2 separate regions of the Homo sapiens genome follow, and region 1 is linked to region 2. The links come from fine-mapping of genetic effects on gene expression. A gene starts in region 2. The other region holds a variant in brackets. All regions are shown on one strand. Distances are from middle to middle. Region 1 overlaps LOC107984003 (a long non-coding RNA gene). Region 2 holds the start of MBIP (MAP3K12 binding inhibitory protein 1).

Region 1 (8,349 bases), 38 kb before region 2:
TGAGTATAAAGTTTGAAAAACTTAGGAAAAACTTTTGGATGTTTGTGACAATGTAATCATTCATTCCACATAATATACTTTAGGTCATTACATAGAGCACAGTTAAAATAAATGAAATAATATTGAGAAAAAGACTATAATCAGGATTAAACTGAAATGTAACATATTTAAGAATCCTTAGAAACTATTTGATGTAATTTAAAAAAATATTTTGAAAGTTATTGTGTTTTCCAAATTCAGAACATGGATTAATTCTACAGGCTCATGTAATAATAAAAATCATGGAATAGAGAATTATTATTCTCCACATTATCCTAAAGTAGCCACAAAACTGAAAATCAAATCAAGCATCCAAAATGTGTTCATGCACCAAAGATGATTTTTGATACAAGTATCATTTTCAATGTCAAAACGCATGCTCTTAAAACATTCATTGGATAGTTATAACAAATGATCTTTTTATCTTAGGAACAGTTTCTCTTTTGAGTATTCTCTTTTATTTTCTTAGTTGTCACTTGCAGCATTAACTAGCATTTTCCACCAGTTGGACTTAAACAATAATGTTTTTGTTTACGCTGTGTTCTAGGAGAGATTTTTAGCATAAATGAATTACAAAGCCTGCGAATTTGGGACATGGTTTTTCCTTTATTCATGAAAGCGGAGGTATTATACCAGTAAAATATGCTTTCAGGATTGCTGAGGATATCACATTCTTTTAATAGACAACAGTAATTTTCTCCAACTACATTATGTCTCTGTGTCAGTCTAATAATTACATGCTATCAGTTTTGTGTCATTTCCTCTGGGATTCCCTGTCTGCCATGCACCACTTTTAACTGTTTCACTTTATTCAACATACTCTCTAATTGCCATATCAAAGGTTTACTTGAACTCATTTTTGTGTATAATGCGTTTGACCATAAAATCATGCATTTGCAGTTGAGTATGCATTTCCATTAAACTTATAGCTTTAAATTTCACTTAGGAGGAAAGCCTTATATTTTAATGCAGGTTTTGAATGCAGATTTACTACAAAATAAGTGAATAATAATGCCAGGTTATTTTGGAAAGTGTTCTTTTATGCAATCACTGCATTCAATACAATCACAAAATGGCTGCCCAACAGGTGGTCCTTTCAGAGTGTTAAGCCACAACAATCGGAACAAAAAGGACACCAGAATCTAATGTTCTCAGAATTTAAAAAGCTGTTCACTTTCTTTTGTTAATTTTCAGATTTAGCCATGTTCATTATTGTTGAGCCCAAATGCAGGACATTCTTTTTTGACATTTTGCCCTAAATAGACACTGACCGAGGCTGACTCTCCAACTAGCTGTTTTGTCACAGGCGAGTGGAAACTAGTCATGAACAATGAGTGTGCATTCTTGCTTCTTAAATGGCTAAGGAACGAACCAGTTTTGACATGCTGCAAATCCGGCAAAGTCTGGGTTAACAAAAGTGTGTTTGACAAAAGATGAAGTTTCTTTTCCTATATTTTCCCCAGAAGTAAGTATTTAATTATGTCCTAACACATTTTCTTATTTTTTGCCTAGAGGATTAGATGCCTTAGTGACAAGCTCATTCACTCTCTGAGGTTATCATGTGGCATTATGAACCATACCATTCAAATGCCACCTTTGGAAGAAACTATTCTTTAAGCAATAATTATTCGTTTAAGGGGAAAAGGTTTAAAAAATATATAACTTTTTGTAGTGTTACCATTATATTACAGTACTAGCATTTTATAAGCTAACGTTGTTTATGGAGCTATCAGAAAATTGATAAATGTAGCAATGTATTTTTCTAAGCAAAGATCAGGCTACATTAAATATAAGAGGAAAAACATTTCAAAGACCTTGAATTTATAAATAGATGAATAAAAGAAGGAAACAAAGAAAGTAACCTTTATGCAGTACTTAAATGTGGGACTTAAAGTATACTTTAGAGTTAGTTGTTAAATGCCCTATCCATCATTGTAAAATCTGTCACCTTTTAAATTGAGGTTTTAAAAATATCAGTATGTACAGCATGGCATCATTTATATTTCTGTAAGTTAAATAGTCCTTTGCTTATGGAAAGAGTCTATTAATTGGTCTTTGTGAGAAGGGTGTAAATACAGATTTTATGATAAGAATACTTTGAAGTAATGTATATAAAATAAATTCCTGTTCATCTGCAATAAATAAGTAGGAAAGTTAAAATAACTGAAGTGGTTTTGTCTGGGTGGCGTCATAGAAAGAGGGAAGCAATACAAATTTACATTTAAGGGTTTCATTAACAATGCAATTTAGGGAATGGCATGGGCTGCTCTAAATTCAGCTGTCACCTCTACCTTCTGCATCAGAAATACTGTTCAAAGAATACTGATGTTCAGAATGGTGAATCTGAGGCATTTGGAATTCTGACTTCACAATAATCAAAAGTAAAATTGCATTATATGTGGCAGATTTTTTAAAAACCTTTTTACGTGACTGTGTCTTAAGCCTTGATATTCAGTAATGTGTGTTTTATAAGTGGAACTTTCAGTTTCCAAGACATAGAGTCTTTAAAAAACAGTTTATTGTGATGCTCATAGCTTGTATTAGACTGGCCCAGGCAACTTTCATTCTTCAAGGATTTTAAACCCTTTTTGTTTAGAGAGTTTCAGCCTAATCACCTAAAATTCTATCTGATTTTTAAAGTAAATCTAAGTTTCTTCATGTAAATTTGGATTGGCCTCAAAGAAACTCTAGTAAGAAAGAGACCAGGAGGGTAATGGCCAGGTCAGGAAATAGCGTACACCATGCTATTCACTTCCACACACATTCCATTGGCCAGAACTCAGTTACATGGTTCCTCTCAAACTGCAAGGGCATCTGGGAAGTGTAGTCTTCTCTTGCGCCTAGAGGAAAAAAGATAGTACTGGTGAGACCCTAACAGATCCAACCACAGTGAGGTCAAATATTAGAGGTCATTTGCTTTTCCTCTCACTTAGGCATACCCACTTCCAAGATGGACTTACTTGGGCACACATCTTAAGTGTCTTTGTGACACCTCTGGTCTGTGTCATAGGCTGAGTTGATCATTAGCACTTGGGGGAAAAAAATTAAAATAATTTTCCAGTGCTTCCAAAGCATTTTAACTGATCAGGATTTTAGGGAAACAGTTTTAATTAGCTTCTGGTGGCATAAAGAAAACAATGTATCTCTATTTGTCTATTAAGCAATGGCACTTAAATTTGTTTAGATCTATGCAAGTGTCAAATCTAAACACAGAACAAAATATAATTTTGTGTAGCAAATTATAATCACAATCTATTCCTTAAAAAAGAACAAAAACAGAATCAATGCTATCAGTGTGCTATTTGAGTAGATGATGGCTCTCTCTGGGTTCTCAAATGTGTATCTATCTATTTACTTATTTTTAGCAGATGATTTTTTTTAATCCTCTGATTCAAAAGCGTGAGGAGAGATATACAAGTCTTCAATGTAAATGTTAACATCTAGTAGCATTGGAGATGACTGTCTTTCTATTATGCTTTCTATTATGCTCTTGGAGAGTTTGCATTATGTTGTAAAACTGGAAAATGGTGCCATAATTAATTTGGGTAGCTAGTCCAGCCACATAGACAGAAGCGATTCACCTGCACTTATGAAACTGATTGGTAGAGAGTATCTATTTTGCTGCTGAGACCAAATAAATTTTTCATGATATTGTTATGCTAAGTTGAACATCACACCTTTTATATTTTCCCCATTTGGCCTTGAATAAACATCAGTACAATAATAATCTAAATGGTTTGCAAGTGTCATGAGCAGTTGCCCATCTGCTTTGGACAGATTTATACAAATCAATTACATGGACATAAAAGCCAAACAAATAGAGGCAAATCAACAGAAATGAAATGGATGAACTCTTAAGTTTTGTTCATCCTATGTAACCCCTTCAGTAACCAAAGATGGATAAATTACACTCATTAACCTTGAAAAATTAGATGATTTGTACATAATATGTTTGAAACAATACCTATCTATTCCTAGTTATGATGAGTGTTTTGTCCATGATATAGTACAGTTTAATTGAAGATCTACACAAGGGATTGTTTTGATATGGTTTGTTTCTTCCTAGAGAGATTATTCCATGAAATTAGCTTGTATTTGTTTTCCACTCTGTAACCCACCTGAAAACTCCGGTTGCTCAGTTACGCTTAGGTAAAAGTGAACATTGACTGTCAGGAAGGAAGTGTGTACATATTTAGTTTTAAGATGATTTCTTAGAACGAACTGAACCTGTGGACAGGGGCTTACCCTGAGAGAGACCAAAGGAAACACTGTTTAAAATTTCCACTGGGCGTTTGTCAAGAAAGTCTTATCAAATTATGTATTATTGCCATGAAAAATTTATCAGTGAAGAGAATGTGCATGTTGTGAAAAAGGTAAGCAAAATCAGAAGCATGTAGCTTTTTAGGGAATGTTCTTATTCCATAAAAGTATGACTTAATGAGATTACTGTTTTAACCATGAGACTGTTAGGGAGATCATTGCTGGGAAGCCCTGAGGGAGGAATTTCCAGTCCTGGTTCTCTGTTTCTGTTAAGTGGAGATACTTTAGTATCTATGTGTTGGTTGTCTCCTTCCTTGCTAAGGAAGCCTCTGGTTTACAGGATCTGGGCTGAAAATCCCAGTAGCCATCCTCTCAGAGTTGCTTTGGAGAAAACAAAATAGAAAAGAATTGCTTTGGAGGAAGCCATTTTTCTGCTACCC[G/A]TTCTCCAAACTGAGATGATGCATGGAGAAACAGTCTTGTATTACAGAAAGAGAATAAGAATATTATGTTGGCATATGAAGAATGATTTTAATCCTTGACTGGTTAAACTGAAATAGACTGCGTACATTGATAGCCATATCTAGGATACCTCATCAGATGTCACCAGCTTGGACAAAAGATTCTTTGAGTCCCCCTTTTGTGCTGTAAATCTACTGTAGAAAATAACCACAGAAAAGTTATTTTCTTTTCATTGCTATCTTTTCATCTCTATCTTTTGTCCTTATTTTTCTGTGTTTCATGCTCATTTTTCTTGAGTACTTCCTCTGTGGTAGGCCCTCTGCTAAGAGCTTTGGTTTTTCATAGTCTTCCTGGCCTTCTTCCTCTAACACTTTCTTCTGAAGTGAGATGTAATGTAAATCTAGCATATTCCAAGCCTTAAATTTTTAGTTTGTTCTGACAATATGTCTGGGCAATTTTTCTAATTTTCATTTGCCGTATTTGTGTGTGTGTGTGTATGTGTGTGCGTGTGTGTGTTTTACCAGCACCTGCACACATCTTGATTTCTTAATCACTCAGGGTTGTTGCTTACCATTGTTATGTTTTCAAAGCTCTTCATGCATCAGGATTAATCCAGAGGACTTAAGCTTGGCACTGGGGGAGTTAAAACACTTGAAGAGTAGTGTAAATTCTTAATTAATACAGAAAGAAGAATCACTTATAATTTATTAAAAATATCCAATGCTGATCCAAATAATATTTTGGAGTAAATGGGTATGTAGTGAACAGTCTTCCATGGTTCCTCATTCACTGATTCTTCCTGCTGGTGTGAGGGCTGTTCAAAATAGCACTTCACTTTTTGGTTTATTTATTAAGATCCTGCACTCAACTATAAAAAATTAGCCTCCTAGAGGTGAATCACTTCCTACACTGCAAAGGAGAAATCTGCTCCTATATAGCAAAGAAGAAAACCCTGCATACATTCCTGAAACAGACAATAAAGAAAAGATCAAATACGTTTATTGCACAGCCCATTCCAAGTGTGAAATGGAGCAGATGAATGTTTAAGTAATGTGGACTGAGTGTCTGAAAGAGTGATCTTGTTACTACCCATTAGACAAGGGTAATGTCCAAGATGGGGCATGATGGGTTTTTTGGTGAACTTTTAAACTCAAAGCTCTTTAATAATTGAAAAATGGAATAGCTTGAAGAAACGTGTCTTCCCTTATGTGGAATATTATGAAAGCTAATAGCATAACTGCACTGGAAGGGACACTGAGGGAGCTTGAGTCAAGCCCTGCGTCAGGTATGCTAAAATTGCCCTGCTGTGAGTCAAAGTCTCTACTTTAATTATCTGCAAAATGCTCTGGCAGAGGGAATGTTTCTCTCCCCTCCTTCTGTTCTCATCTGGTGTACTGGCTGCTGGCTAGTTTATTAAATCAACATTTTCAAAGACTTCCCCCTTCCATCTCTAGGTAGCTAATGCCAGTTAGATTTTAAGTCTCTCAGCAAAAATTTATTCTTCAATAAACACTGCCTCTGGGACAAAGTTGTACACAAGCCTTAGTGGCCAGGAAGGAGCTAAGAGTATTGGTATGTTTTTGTCTTGCCTCTCTCTTCCTTCTCTTCCACCTTTTTCTTTGGTACCTTGCTAATAATAAGTAGAGAGGCATAAACATCCCGTCATACTTGGAAGACAAAAGCTCACACACAGCACATAGCATATCCCATGGGAAGGGCATATATTACCTTCATCACCACATTGCGCAACTAAGCAATTTTTTTGCCTGTTCAGATACAACTAGTGAAAAACATGTCAAATAAGCAGTAGTTTGGGGACTGACACCTAATCCCTACTTCTCATAACACCTCAACAATTATATAAGAAACATCGATTGTACACTCTATGTACACAACACTCTGTGGTATGTTGGATATGCAGCCTCTGTCCTCTTTACTTAAATAGATTTACTTGCTTCCTGCCTAGCTGGCCTTGTTGAGGCTGATAACCCTGGGCCAGCGCCTTCCCCACCACACTCTCCCCATCTCAGCTCAGCAGTTCAGTGCTCCATTCCCTGGAGTTTTTGGTAGGGGAGTACCCAAAATGAATGAAGTGAGTGGGGTAAAGACTCAACCACACATATTAATTCAAGATCCCTACTGGGCAGGAGGGAGGCTGCTTTAAAGGAGACAGTTCCCATGCTCTTCACATCTCAATATACGGGTGACCATTGTCTGCCCAACTAACCCTGGATTAGCCTGTGTCTTAGAAAGGGCATGCAGTCAGGGTGATGGTATCTCCCTCCAAAGAGTTTGGGGGCATAAACCTGAGTGAAGGTTTCTTTTGGGGACGGGATACCTTCTGTTCCCTATAGCAAGGAGTGTTATCCTGCCAGGCAGCCATATCTACTAAAGGCAGCTGGCTTTCAGAGGATATGATGCTGATCAAGCCTCACGCGCAAATGTCAAATACCAGGGCATGTGAGAGGGGTTGTGTAAAGTAAGTTAGTAAGTAGGCTTCTTTTCTGTAGCAGTTCATCTTTAATATTAGTACCTCTGCAAGAAGACCATCTCTTGAATTCTGCAGTTCAATGGCAATTCTGTTACGGTTGTACTTGTAATGTGCTGAAAAATTCAAAGTTGATCATCTCTATATCTCTTCATTCAAGAAGCCAGTTGCCTTTTTGCTCTTTTCAAGAGGGTAATTCCTCATGCTTTTATTTTGCCGATTAATTTTCCCCTTTGGCCTATACATTTTCCCCTTTATTCTGTTTTTACTCAAGGTTATCTCAGCCTTTCTCCTACTCATCTGCTGCCTAACTTAGCTGTTCTGTATATGTATCTGCCATTTGTTACAGAGGCAAGAACTCGGGCTTTGGAGAGGATGAGGGCAGGCTACCCAGCCCTGTCTCTTACAGAGGACTTCTCACCTTTCTGAGTCTCAAATTCCTGTCTGCAAATAGAGATAATAATACAGTAAGCTCTTTGCTTATTGTAAGGATTAAATGAGATAATGCATGAGAAGTCCTCATACACTACTCAAAATTGTTAGTTCCTGCCAGTTCTTTCTTCCTTCTTCTCCATTTTTGCCTCTTATCTATTAGTAAAAATTCACAGAATTGAATAAAATTGCAGATGTTTGCTATACAGATAATTACCTTAAAAACTATATTTAAACAGGCCATAATAAGTTATTTAAAAATGGGTTTGTGGCTTCTTCAATGCCCTTTTCTGAAATTTTTGCTTTGAGGCCTAGAGGTTAAGACCCTCTTTACAAAAATAACTTATTAACCAAATGTAATGTACCCGAGCATAGTGATCCATTCTGCACACTGTAGCCAGAAGCCAGAGTGATTTTTCTAACGTGCCACTCTGATCGGGCCATCCACCTGCTCTTCCCACCGGCTCCTTAAGCCAGTGATTCAGTGATTTGCAAGGCTTTTCAGATCTGGACCGTTCTTCACTCTCAAGGGTCCCTCTCACACTCTTCCCACCCCATCGTATGACACAGTGCTTCATGCATGACGGCTAAACAATGACAATAAGTTCAATGAATAAATGAAGACAAGGTGGTTACATTTTCTATAGCTTTGACTGAATGACAGAGTTCAA
Region 2 (8,349 bases):
TTAACAGATTTAGATTAAATCCGGATGTAAATAACGTTTTATTAGCAACACTATTAATATAGTGTTTAGAACTGTCAAATACTCCAACTAACTTAACCACAATCAATTTCTATTTTCAATATCGGGTTATCATTTCTAACAAGAAATTTACCTGTAAATATAAAATGTGTTGTTCAAGTGCACTAAAGAGCAATGCAGGCTGGAATGCCGAGAGGCTCTGGAGCTTGTTCCAATCGATTGTAATTTTCACCACATCATCTCTGAGGTCAAGCTTCAAAGGGGCAAACCAGCAACATCACAAAAATTACACGATTAAGCTCTACATATGGAATTGTCACAAAAATAAGATTTCTAGAGTAACGGGTCTATTTTGCTCTAAGTTATCAAGTTTTTAATAATACACTGAAATGCTCTACCCAGTTACCATTTCAAAAGGCCAAGAAAGCTACAGATTTTCATAAAAAAACAAAAACAAAATGACATGTCGTTCAAATTCTATTCTTAGGTCTGTGTAATGGGACCATTTTAGAGGTAAAACCATTCATGAAAGATGAAAAGATGAAGGCTCTTTTGATACTTCAATATATACAAACCTTTGGATGGAGTCCAATATAGGCTTGCCCTATTCAGAATCCTACTACTTCTAGCTCAGAGCCTTAAACAGAGGAAGTACAAGTGTTTTGTGAAAGTTTTAACATGCATCTTTCTCTTTAAGTATGTACACAAATACATATCAGAAATATATCATTATTCTGATGTCCTCCAAATCACATTTTTAGTTTTTTAACTTTTAACCGATTTTTAAACTAATTTAAAAGTCAAGATTATTCATACATATAAAGTGTAGGGATAAATGGCAACATGTTTATTTCAAATAAAAAACTATTATTTAGCAATGGAAGTCTGAAGCTGAAAAACAAAGACTTCTCCACCACAGTGAAATAAGTTGTCAGACTGGATGAAATGTCCAGATCTTTTGTAAATGCTAAGATGTGACAGCTCATTATATGGAAATTTCTATCAGTTGGTGATCTAATAGAATAAAATCATATCCAGAAAACTACCAAGAACCTGAATATAAGATTATTATCAAAATGAGTGAAAATTTTACAATGAGAGCGCCCATCTGCAGTCTTTTGAATGAATAAAAGTGAACCATCAAAAACTTTTCTAGGGACATGTGTTTACAGCATAGTATAAGACTATACTTCATAGTAGAATCAAGTTAACATAATTTATTCAAAATGAGTCATCTTTTCTACAAAATAAAGGTGTTACGTGAGTTCAAATACAGATTTTATGAGTCACAATTATAATAAAAAAGATGAATCACTGTACAAAGATCAAAAAGATATAAGGTTACCAATAAAAAGATAATATATTGAATAAATACTATGTGACAGAAATTTACTGCCCTTTGAAGATGAGAATGGAAGCATTTAAAAGTCCATATTAGACAAGTATAAAGAGATATGAAATTTCATGTAGGCTGCACTGGCAAAGATTAGAATATATTAAGATTGTACATTAAAGTTAATGCATTAATTTATATTACTTTAATTCCTATAAAGATTTTGTTAGACAACAACCTGTATTATGTATGGAAGTAACCCATTAATGTACTTTCATAGTCTTCAAGGAGATCTATAGTTGATTATAGAAAACTTAAGAATACAGCTTGGGGATAAAGCAGGCAAATCCTCAACCAAAGCAAAGTATCACATTTTCTAGAGAAAATAACTTATAGAAAAATAAGTCTTAATGTTTGGTTCATATTCTCATTTCAATTCAGCAGAATTACATAAGCTTCAAGTGCAATTAAGAATAATTAGTCTTTTAAGAAAACCACATAATGTCACAAATTAATTTTAAAACTGTCCTAATACATCTAACTATTCATTCAACAAATTCATTATTAGTAATATGAACTCTATGCATTTTGCCCTACAGAACTTGGAAGAGTAAACCACTCACTCGAAAATCTCTATTAGTCTGCTATTAATATAGACTATTTAAATATATATTTTCAGTAAAAACTTTACTAAATTAATACAAAAATCCAAGCTAAAAATAAATAATTGTTTAGCTTGGTAAGATGGACCATCCAGAGGCAAGCAAAAAGGTTAAAATTAGTAAATTTTGTGATCTTAAGTAAAAAATTATTTTTAACATTCAGTTTTATGTTTCCTACTGAGGAGATCTAATAATACAACGATACTTAGGGATGACACAGGATGAAGTTAGGCATGTTACAACATACATTCTAAATATCCTTTAAAGTGGTTGCAAAAGAAAATACTGATTTCTCTGGGGGCAATTTTATAAGTATGGAACTCTAATTTTCACTCTTAACACTTCTCAAAATATAGAGTATTATGAAAACAGTTTGTATTTAATTGATGAAACAATCATATTTTTGACACTTGTATAGGAGGTCCCTTCACTGTGTCATGGTAAAGTAACCAAATATTTACTGTGAACATTTTTGACAGGTGACATAAGTAAATTGTAATCACTTCTTTACTTGTACAGTACTTGAATGTTTAAAATTTTCTAATGAGTTTGAAAAATTCAGTATGCAAAATATTTCAAAAGAAATGTTTAAATCATTGCTCAGTATTTTTTAAAAATATTCCATCTTCTGTTAACAGGTGAGAATAAACTTTTTTCATCTTGACATTATAAAATAAATAAACTTAAGTTCCAACGTCGCCATAAAAAGTTCTCTAACTTTTAAACCATTTAAACGTCTTGGGTCTTAAGAATGGAATGTTAATAACAAAACACCCCAAGTCTTTAAAAAATGTTTTTGGTAAGTACTTGGCAAACAACTGAATTTAAAAGTTATATCTTTAAGCAGACTCCATTAATAACTGCGTCATTTCATAAAACCGTTTAACTTACAGTAATGTTCTTTGTAAGACACAACATACTACGATTTTTAAAAATAGTAACTTCTTAAAAGACTGATTCTCCATCTACTCAAGGCTTTAAAAATAATTTTCACAAATCAGACAAATGTTCTATTTTCATAGGAATTTACCATTATCTTTGACACAAATGCCTGCTTTGTCCACTTGCGCTAGTACCAGCCCCAAAACAAACTTTTACGGCTAGAAAATGGTCTATGTAAGATAGAAAATATTTCCTTTTAAAAGGCAGGTAAACAAGCATACTTTTAAATTGTTTCTCATTTAAAACTTGAATTTTACACCATGAAACGAAACAGTGACTTGATCGAAGAAGCCCATTTCAATTTAAAACCAATTTTACTATGACATTTCTGCAAAAGCGATTTATCAGCCAGTTAAACTAGTTAATAGTTAAATAACGACAGTTCTAACGCCAACAGCATTTTACGCTAGAAGTATTTTAAATGAATTCCTTTTACTTTTCTCCCCATTTGAAAGGATTATAGATGCGCAAAACAGCCCGAAGGAAAAAAGAAATAAACAAAACCAAGTAACTCATAAGAACAAATTACTCCCTCCCCCACCAAAAAAAGCTAATAAGCGCGCGCTTTTCTATAAATCTCAGGCCTACTGACCAACCAATTCCCATAAAGAGTAAGTTGGAGGAAAAAGGACCCTGAACGCTAAGCGCCTCCTAAACTCGCAGTGAAGCTTTTCCACATTCATTCTCTCCAAGCCTGCCTCTCTCGGAGCCGGGTTTTCACTTAGGCCAACCTCACCCACTCTTGGGGAGGACAGCTGCAAGGTAAACGACTCTGCAACCGGTACCGCCGTCCTCCTCACTCCGACCGAGGAGGCTGGGCCCGGGCTCCTTCCACACCTCGGCTTCGGGACCGCATCCCACACCTCTGCAGGCCTAGCTGCCCCCGGCCTCTGCTAGAGAAAAAGAATGGCGAGGAGGGACCGGATGGTTTCCATATTCCCAGTCCCTCAGGCCACCTCTCACCTGTCCAACCAGGGTGTGTAGGGAGCGAAAGATTTCGTAGAGCACCTCTCGGGAGAGGTTGGGTCTGCATCTTCGCTCCAGGTTCCTGTCACCGCTGCTCGGGCGATTAAGCTCCGTGGCAGCAGCCATGATATCTTCTCAGGCCGCCCCACCACCACCACCACCAAGATTTGCTCACAACCCCGCCCCCTCCCTTCCAGCTTTAGTCGCTTGGCGATGACGTAAGACACGGAGTCTGGTTTAGATCGGGCTTTGAGGCCCCACCCTCTCTATGTGAATGACAAGCACGTTACACCAATCAGTTGCAGCTGTGACATTGCGCCGAGGCTCTGAAGTGGGTAATTGCAGACCACAGCTAGGCTGGAATGCTGTGTTTGGGGTGGTCATTAGAGTCGTGGTCTCTTTAGCGTTATGAAGCCTACCTTGACTCCTAGGTGTTCATTGTGAATCTTGGTAAGAGGAGACATAGTTAAATTTTGTAGTTTGAGTCCAAAAAGTAAAAGTTGACATTTTAACATGGCGGTGTGGAGTGGGTCTGGAGGAAGCTTGCTGGTCAGGGATGGAGTGGTGCCCACACGTGTTTCTAAACATTGGAAAACTCACACGGAATTATCATGATTGGATAGAACATTTTCATCTCTTCAAGTTTGTTGTTGTTGTTTTGGAGACAGAGTCTCACTCTGTCGCCCAGACTGGAGTGCAGTGGCACTACCTCGGCTCACTGCAACCTCCGCCTCCCAGGTTCAAGCGGTTCTCCTGCCTCAGCCTCCTGAGTAACTGGGACTACAGTTGATATTCTCTGTTTTAACTGTAGAGACGCTTAACCCTAAAATTGTTTCAAAGAAATGAAACACTGTCAATATAATTCCAACAGGAATTTAACCTGGATAAATAATATCATGCAACCACAATCTTTGAAATTAGGACATAAAACCGAATTCAAATTTTACAAAGTATTATTTATCATAATAGCTTTATTATAACGATGTTTGTGGGGTTTTGTAATCTTTTAGTCAGACTCCGATATTTTTAAAAAGTGTTATCCAATTAAAGTATTACAATAATTTTTAGTGTTAAGCTTTATTCAAAAACACTTTAAGAAATCAACATCAGCTTAGAGATAAGGAAGGTGGGATTTAAAACTCGTAATTCTGTTAATAGTCTAATGCATTTACAGTAGAGAAAGCAAAGGTGGAAACTTGCACAATGTGTATTCTTTAGTTTTAGGGTAGACTAAATTAAAGGGAAGGACTAATGCATCAAGGAACTAAGATAAGGACGATGGGGATAAAAACTCCTTTGACCTGTCCCTAGGGAGTCTCTTAATTAGGCTTTCATTTCCAAAGACAAATGGGATCACCAGGCTTGACAGAATCTTGGGAAATCTTTTCTGTTCCCTTGTTGGCAGCAAGATATACAACTGACATTCCAGCCTATTTCTACAGGCAGAAAAATACTTCACAATGTCCAGTCTCAAATTGAGCAACCTTCTTATTCAAGCATGGTAATGGGGTAACTGTAAGTTTTTGTTTTGTACCAAATTAGCAATCAGTTTCAGATCATTTGTTTTCATTGAGGTGTTTCATATTTTTTCAAATATGGAGAACACTGATATGCAACACATTTGGGAATATGCTTTGTATATTTAAAAAATGTTGTCTTTAACAAGGTGCTGCTATTCCTTTCTTTGCCATCATTGATTTTGAATTTTCAAGTTTTACTTGTTCTTTTGAGCCTCTAATACAGAATTAACTGATGGCCATTTGATCTGTGTATTGCTTCTCCATGTAATTCTGTGATTTGATATCCAGACCTGCACTTGTATCTTAGTATTCTTTACTTAGGTACAGGTTGAGCATTCCTAATCTGAAAATTCAAAATCCAAAATGATCCAAAATTTGAAACTTTTTGAGTGCCAGTACCACAAGTGGAAAATTTCACACCTGATCCGACATAACAGGTCACAGTTAAAATGTAGTCAAAACTTTGTTTCATGCACAGAATTATTTAAAACATTATATAAAATTACCTTCAAGTTATGTGTATAAAGTATACATGAAACATAAATGAATTTTGTGTTTAGATTTGGGTCCCATCCCCAAGATAGCTTATTATATATATGCAAATATTCCAAAATCTAAAAAAAATCCGAAATCTGAGACACTTCTGGTCCCAAGTAGTTCAGATAAGGGATACTCAACCAGTAGTACTTAAAATTTGTTAACTCTTTTGTGCATTCTTTCTTCTTTCTAAGGACCTTTCTTACTCTTCTTGATGCCTATTACCTTCATTTTGGAAATTTTTCTCATTTTCTTATTTTATAATAGAAAATTCTATTTTAAATAGAAGAGTTTGTAGCCTGAAAAGATTTGGATTCCTTTGGGCCAACTCAAAATAGAAATTTGTAGATATTGTATGTGTGTATGTATGTATAACAAAAGTATAATATGCGCTATGAAATTTAGAAAGGGAATAAAGGGAATAATTTGCTCTTTATGGAAAACTAATTACAGTTTATAAAGTGGGTTGCTGAAAAATCTGCTGCCTGGCAGAAATGATTCAAAGTGTTGGTGTTCGCGTTAGCAACAGAGTTAGAAATACTGTCCAGCAGGCTTATGCCAAGAATCAATTGGGAGGATAGAGACTATAAATGAAATCTAGGCTATTTACCTTATCAACAAAAATGTCTTTTATGGTGAGCTTTAATGGCATAACTCTATTGAATAACCCAGTTCCCAGCAAAATACCTGAGGTATTAGAAGGGCTCAACTGATGTTTGTTGCATATATGATAATACAGATTTTATTTCAATGCAGAAAAAGTAAAATAAATGGTATTTGTCGTCCCTGTCTCCCCATCACCTGCTGCATAAGTCCAAGTTCTTTAGAATGACATGAAGGCTCTTATGATGTGGCCTTTGCCTAAATTTCCAGCCTCATTTTCTGCCACAAACCATCTGGTGCTTAGTGCTTCTGAAACTGCTTTTATGTCTTCAACACTTTACTATTTCTTGCCTCCATGCTTTGATTTTTACCCAGTGCCTGTTGTCTGCTTGAGAAACTCCTTTTCCATTTTCAAACTCCAGTTAGAAAATCTTTGGGGAATCCCCCCTCATAAAGAGCTTATTTTCTCCTCTGCTAAACTACTCCTACAACTTGTATATACTTCTATTATTGTAGTTATCACAGTGATACTTGAATTTATTTGACTATATCTGTCTCCTTATTGAACTATAAGCATTTATATGTTGGTGTACATAAGGCTTAGCATAGTTTCTGGCACAGAGTTAATTGCTCAGTATATGCCTGTTGAGCTGAATTTATTTGCCTTCATAAGTGAACAGATTTATAAAATGGAAAAAAGTAAACAAGTGCCTATTGTTGAAGGAAAATTGTAACATATAGACTGCTATAAACAATTTATTTTAAATAACGAAACAAGTCTGTTTATTCTCTTTTGTGGCAGCAAATTCAAAGTGTTCTAAGTTTTCTTAAGGGAGTAAATATAGCTAGCCTTCATAACCATTCTCAATAATTTTACACATACAAATTAATTGTACCTACTATATACCAGGCACTCTAATTGACATTGAGCTACAAAGATGAATCAGACAAGGACTGTTCCTCAAAGAGCTCCCGTTCTAGTGGGATAGGTAGATATATAAACAAACAACTTCATATAATGTGACAATGGCCATATTAGAGGTATGTATAAAGTAATGCAGCCAATTAGTTCCTTTGGGGAGGGGGTTGGGTCCAGAATCAGGAAAAGCTATAAACACTTAAAGTAAAATCTGAATTGATATTGATAAAAATATGAATTTGATATCAAAATATGAATTGATAAATAAGAATTCTCAAGGAATTTATAGAAAACATGAACAGCAACTTGAACATGCTTAATATGTTTAGGGAGGATACATTAAATAGAGAAGTATGGCTAAGCAAGCATTTCCTAAAGTGTATTTTATGGAATGCTAGTCTATAATGTGCTAATTTTAGCAAAACAGTTCATGATCAAGTAAATTGGGATAATAATTGGCAAATTGTATTGCCATTTCATGCAATGGCTCACAACATTACTTCCTATTAGCAAGGAGTTTAGCAGTGCAGTCAAGCCCAAGGACATAACTAAACCAATCTCAAACTCCCATTTTTGAAGATTTACTTACTGGTATAAATAAATCTCATACCAATTTCTGTATCAGTTGAGGTTTAATCAGGAAACAGAAGCCATACATGTTATCTGAACAGAGAAAGTTTACTATAAACATTGTTAATTATGGTAAGTGGTTAATTAACTGAAAAGGTAATAAAACAAAGTATCACAGAGGTAGTACATTCAGGAAGCAGCTAATCTCTAGGGCTGGGGGAAACAAAAGAAAGAGGAATTATTAAAATTGTGGAATTTAGAAGAACAGCCCTGTGGAGT

The links. PIP is the estimated chance that this variant, and not a neighbour inherited with it, causes the effect.
Region 1: its variant is fine-mapped to the expression of MBIP in whole blood (TOPMed, PIP above 0.99).

Annotation. Positions count from the first base shown.
Region 1 is chr14:36,278,677-36,287,025 of GRCh38, forward strand. All of the region lies in intron 2 of LOC107984003 (a long non-coding RNA gene), which reads left to right. Among named protein-coding and RNA genes, the nearest start is that of MBIP, 38 kb to the right of the region's middle. RefSeq lists an enhancer at 812-1,460. The variant G/A (reference allele first, on the strand shown) is at 4,740.
Region 2 is chr14:36,316,542-36,324,890 of GRCh38, forward strand. MBIP (MAP3K12 binding inhibitory protein 1) reads right to left here and starts at 4,096. Exons shown (of 9, transcript NM_016586.3): 1 at 3,919-4,096; 2 at 152-271. The coding sequence starts at 4,047. RefSeq lists enhancers at 3,785-4,044, 4,445-4,494.